2 separate regions of the Homo sapiens genome follow, and region 1 is linked to region 2. The links come from fine-mapping of genetic effects on gene expression. A gene starts in region 2. The other region holds a variant in brackets. All regions are shown on one strand. Distances are between the middles of the regions. Region 1 has its middle 6.6 kb from the start of SOS2. Region 2 holds the start of VCPKMT (valosin containing protein lysine methyltransferase).

Region 1 (2,917 bases), 120 kb before region 2:
GATTACAGGCGTGGTGAGCTACCTTGCCTGACCAGTCCTAGCTATCTGAAAGGTTGAGATGGGGATCCCTTGAGCCCAAGAGTTCAAGGCTGCAGGGAGCTATGATTGCACCACTGCACTCCAGCCTGGGTAACAGTGAGACCCTGTCTAATGATAATAATAATACATTCATTCAGAGAATACAGAATCATTGGAAGGCTAATGAAGTAGATTCTGGTTGAGCTTTCAGGAACAAGTCCCAAAGCCACACCACAGAACCAGGCCACTAAGAGAGTAATTTCAAAACAATTATGATCCACAGAGAACTGCCACACCATGAGTCTAGCCATTGCTGCTGCCACATAAAACTAGTGACTGAATGGTGCTTGCTAACAGAAATATCAGAGTTGCGGCTTCCAACTCACTTCTGCCTTCTTCTTTTTTTTTTTTTTTTTTTTTTTTGAGAGGGAGTCTCGCTCTTGTCACCCAGGCTGGGTTGCAGTGGTGTGATCTCGGCTCACTGCAACCTCCACCTCCTGGGTTCAAGCTATTCTCCTGCCTCAGCCTCCTGAGTCGCTGGGATTACAGGCGCCCATCACCACGCCCGGCTAATTTTTGTACTTTTAGTAGGCAGAGTTTCGCCATGTTGGCCAGGCTGGTCTTGAACTCCTAACCTCAGGTGATCCATCCACCTCAGCCTCCCAAAGTGCTGGGATTACAGGCGTGAGCCACCGTGCCTGGGCTCACTTCTGCCTTCTATATCTCACTCTAGTGTATCTGATAGACTGGGAGCTATACTGAACAGATTACGAATACGTTCGTTGTTGACAGCTCAACTTCATTAACTGTCAGGAATTTGAAGGATTCTATTGCGATAACATAAATAACAAAAATTTGAATGATGCTTTTTTTCAGTCACTAGTTTTATGTGGCAGCAGCAATGGCTAGACTCATGGTGTGGCAGTTCTCTGTGGATCATAATTATTTTGAAATTACTCTCTTAGTGGCCTGGTTCTGTGATGTGGCTTTGGGACTTGTTCCTGAAAGCTCAACCAGAATCTACTTCATTAGCTTTCCAATGATTCTGTATTCTCTGAACGAATGTATTATTATTATTATTATTAGACAGGGTCTCACTGTTACCCAGGCTGGAATGCAGTGGTGCAATCATAGCTCCCTGCAGCCTTGAACTCTTGGGCTCAAGGGATCCCCATCTCAACCTTTCAGATAGCTTTTTTTTTTTTTTTTTTTTGAGACGGAGTCTTGCTCCCCCAGACTGGAGTGCAGTGCCACGATCTTGGCTCACTGCAAGCTCCGCCTCCGGGGTTCACACCATTCTCCTGCCTCAGCCTCCCGAGTAGCTGGGACTACAGGCACCTGCCACCACGCCAG[G/A]CTAATTTTTTGTGTTTTCAGTAGAGACAGGGTTTCACCGTGGCCAGGATTGTCTCGATCTCCTGACTTTGTGATTCGACCGCCTCGGCCTCCCAAAGTGCTGGGATTACAGGCGTGAGCCACCACGCCCAGCAATGCTTTGCCCTTTCACCTTGATTATAGGAGATGGTGTTTGGAACAGCTACTTCCCCCACGTACGATGACTTTCCACCTGGTGGTGGTGGCAATATTTGGATGACCTCGGTGGCATCTTCATACCTTGGAGAACCAGAAAACACTCTTTTTGCTCAATAGCACGTTGTATGTAACATATAAACATACAATGCCTTTTTTGTGGGGAGTGGGGAGGCATACTTTTAAATCGATCTTTTGGAGTTTCATACAAAATTATAGTTCCTCTTGGGAAGACCTTTTAGGTATGCTGTCTCTTACAGGGGGTTGGGCATGAGCCTCCCATAAGGGTCAGAGGACAAAGGCCTGTCTGAGGGCCTGCTTCAACTTCTTTCAGGCAGGTGGCTGTGAGAGGACCGAGCTGGCTATGGCAGCAACCCATGAAAGTGAGTGATAACAACATTTATTGTTTCCTGTGGCGTTGCTTTGCTTTGCTATTGACTGGTAGCGCTTGTAGCTTTAAATAAATTGAGGAAGTATGAGAGAGTAAATGGAAGAAATGTTGAGTAAGTCCTTCTTGAAAATGTTTTCAAGTGGGAGAATATTAGTGGTAAATTTCTAACTGTCTTTTAACATTTTAATTGGGCTTGGATCATTCACATTTTCCCCAAATCCTTTCTAAATTAAAAAAAAGGTAAAGGCCAGGTGCAGTGGTTCATGCCTGTAACGGGTGCAGTGGTTCATGCAGTGGTTCATGCAGTCCCAGTACATTGGAAGGCCGAGGCAGGAGGATCGCTTAAGACCAGGAGTTCAAGACCAGCCTGGGCAACAGAACAAGACCCCCATCTCTTAAAAAAAAAAAAAAATACAAATTACAAAATAAATTAGCTGGGCTTGGTGGTGCATACCTGTAGTCCTAGCTACCTGGGAGGCTGAGGCAGGAGGACCCCTTGAGCCTAGGAGTTCAAGGCTGCAGGGAGCTAGTATGATCACGCTACCGCACTCCAGCCTGGGTGACAGAGCGAGACCCTGTCTCTTAAAAAAAATTAATTTAAAAAGGGAAGCAAAATTACAATCTGTCAAATTATTGGCTGGGTGCAGTGGCTCTCGCCTATAATCCCAGCACTTTGGGAGGCTGAAGAAGGCGGATCACCTGAGGTCAGGAGTTCGAGACCAGCCTGGCCAACATGACTAAACCCCGTCTCTACTAAAAATACAAAAAAATTAGCCGGTCTTGGTGGTGTGTGCCTGTAATCCCAGCTACTCGGGAGGCTGAGGCAGGAGAATTGCTTGAACCTGGGAGGCAGAGGTTGCAGTGAGCCAAGATCGCACCACTGCACTCCAGCCTGGGTGACAGAGTGGGACTCTGTCCCGAAAAAAAAAAAAAATATATTAGCATGATAGTTAGCATATTTCAGTACAAATTTGTGATTAA
Region 2 (2,917 bases):
AGGAGAATTGTGAATAACACCAACTGTTCTTAAACTCTTTAATGCCATGTCTTAAATGCCGGTATTTGCTGCTGAAGACAAAAATGAAAAGTAGGATGAAAATAATAGAATGGCACTGTAAGTGTTTATTATTTTGTCAAAATGTAAACAAAGACTACATAACCCAATGATGGAGGGAAAAAGGGCATGTATCTCATTCAGATGTGCCTTTTGTTTTTGCAGACTATGACGTCTTTAGCTAATGAATTGCCTATTGTTATGGAAAACAGTTAATATGCCATGTATGTACAGTTTTGTTTATATTGTATATTTAAAGATACTGCTAATAACCTATATAAATTTAAGTGACTTGAGGCCTATAATACAATCTGCTACTTTACTAATTCATAAATTCAAAAAAAATTCTATGGCATAGGAACCAACTGCCTTGCCTTCAAGACCTAGTAACTTTCTCTATAAATCTCGTGTTAACTGAAATTTTTTTTAAATATATTTTTTAGATTGGTAATATTTAAACCAGCAAATACTTAAAGCTTTATTAAACATTTTAATCAGATAAGTGAGTAAAGCTTTTATTTGCCATTTGGATGCCTTCGTTCAAAGTGATAGAGTGTTTTGCTGATAGTGCTGTAGCAGCAGTTGTAAAGTAGCCAAAAGCCACGTTGTTTATTTACTGGTTTGTGGCCTTTTACTGTGCTTTGTATCAGAGTTCTTAACAAGATTAATAAATCACCCCAGTCTTAATTTTTAAAAGACTTTTAAAATATGTGTTTTCATTATAAGGAACAAAGGGGGAGATTGTTGAGTCCTATAGACACACACACACACACACACAATTTTTTCTTCACTGTTAAATGTGAGCTGCAGGCTTCTAGCAACCACTTTTATGAATTCATACAAAAAACTAGGAGCATACTAGGAACTTGAAAAGGAAGATTGTAAGATTATAGCCATCTTTGGTAGGATCTTGGAAGCTGATTGCATTTAAGCCTTGTAACTACTATGTAAATCAAGTGTCCAACTTGGTAAACTCTGAGGTTGGCTTTGTTTTTTAAAGAGCAGATTATAATAGTTTTGTCTGGGAAAGTGATTTAAACGGCCTCTTCGTTAAGCCAAACGTGTGATTTAGGGTAGAGGGAGGCTGCCAAGCGCGTCGGGTAAGCAGGGGCCCCACGCTCGGCCCCGCCCAGGTAACGCTGCCTTCCGGGCTTTGTTAACTCGCGCGCGCTGCGTCGCCAACTCAGCGGCGGGCAGGGGGCGGAGCCGCAGGGCGGGGCGGTGCGCGTTGATGTGACGTCCCTGCGCGCGCCGCTTTCTGTTGCCGGGCGCAATGGCGGATACGCTGGAGTCCTCGCTGGAGGACCCACTGCGGAGCTTTGTGCGAGTTTTGGAGAAGCGGGATGGTACAGTGCTACGACTACAGCAGTATAGCTCCGGTGGCGTGGGTTGCGTTGTGTGGGACGCTGCCATTGTCCTTTCTAAATACCTGGAAACGCCCGAGTTTTCTGGCGACGGGGCCCACGCGCTGAGCCGGCGGTCGGTGCTGGAGCTGGGTTCGGGCACCGGGGCCGTGGGGCTCATGGCTGCTACCCTCGGGTAAGAGCTGGCGGGCGGGCGGGATGTGGGGGCGCCTTCTTGCTGGGGAAATCCGGATTACAGGCTTTCCCCCCTGTGCCTACACCTCAGTCGACGTTATTTTATAGGGCTGATGTTGTAGTCACCGATCTTGAGGAATTGCAAGACTTGCTGAAGATGAATATTAATATGAACAAGCATCTTGTCACTGGTTCTGTTCAAGCCAAGGTACTGAAATGGTTTGTATGGCCTTTCAGCTTGTTTTAAGATATTGATTTGTAGTTTGTTTTGAATTGCGTTTCATTAAAAGGATGGAAGGGGACTTTCCGGTTCTTTATAAAACAAGAGTATTTTGAATTATTAAAACAATTGAAATATTTGTTTGGCATTTTTAAGGGGGGAAGAAATAGAAGGCTTTCCTTCTCCACCCGACTTCATACTGATGGCCGACTGCATATACTATGAAGAGGTAAGTATCCAGTGAGCGAAGTCTCTTCACTTAGAAGATGAACCTTATTCCATGAATTCTAAAGCACACGTTTCTTCACATTTTAACATCTTTGAATCCGGGATTTGCCTTATAGTTGATGCAGTAAAGAGAAGATAAAAGTCACCAGGGACCATATGTATATACGCTCATCATTATCATACCGACCTGGTGAAGCATGTTGAGAAAAGTGTTATATGCATTTTACTAGAGGCTTCTGTAAAAATTTTAAAGGATTTTGCCAATTGGATGTTATGAAAAGCCAAAATCCTCTCTTTTTCCCTTGGTTGTTCCCACGGAACATGTTAACCATGACATTGAGAATTAAGTTATAAATAATTCATTGTTCTTTTCTTTAAATACCAGTTTGGGCCGGGCGCGGTGGCTCACGCCTGTAATCCCAACACTTGGGAGGTCAAGGCAGGTGGCTCACCTGAGGTCGGGAGTTCGAGACCAGCCTGACCTACATGGCAAAACCCTGTCTCTACTAAAAATACAAAATTAGCCAGGCGTGGTGGTGCATGTCTGTAATCCTAGCTATTTGGGAGTCTGAGGCAGGAGAATCGCTTGAACCTGGGAGGCGGAGGTTGCAGTGAGCCGAAATCATGCCATTGCATTCCAGCCTGGGCAACAAGAGCAAAACTCTGTCTCAAAAAAAAAAAAAAAAAAAAAAAACATCAGTTTGTATAGTGTTGTGGGCATCGATTATTTTAAAAATAATTAGCATTGAACCAAGTTAGGGTCAGATTTAACTTTTGTAGGGAAATCGTTGATTATTTAAATCCCAAATTAGATTAAATAAAATTAAACTTTTAAGAGTAAGGTTGATTCCATTTGTTTCCCATGAGAACTCCA

The links.
Region 1: its variant is fine-mapped to the expression of VCPKMT in whole blood (TOPMed, PIP above 0.99).

The regions. Positions count from the first base shown.
Region 1 is chr14:50,236,688-50,239,604 of GRCh38, reverse strand. No RefSeq gene overlaps it. Among named protein-coding and RNA genes, the nearest start is that of SOS2, 6.6 kb to the right of the region's middle. RefSeq lists silencers at 1,902-2,041, 1,847-2,047. The variant G/A (reference allele first, on the strand shown) is at 1,372.
Region 2 is chr14:50,114,966-50,117,882 of GRCh38, reverse strand. It overlaps VCPKMT (valosin containing protein lysine methyltransferase), which reads left to right and starts at 1,311. Exons shown (of 6, transcript NM_024558.3): 1 at 1,311-1,596; 2 at 1,704-1,814; 3 at 1,972-2,044. The coding sequence starts at 1,331. SOS2 (SOS Ras/Rho guanine nucleotide exchange factor 2) reads left to right here. Exons shown (of 23, transcript NM_006939.4): 23 at 1-753. RefSeq lists an enhancer at 1,315-1,374.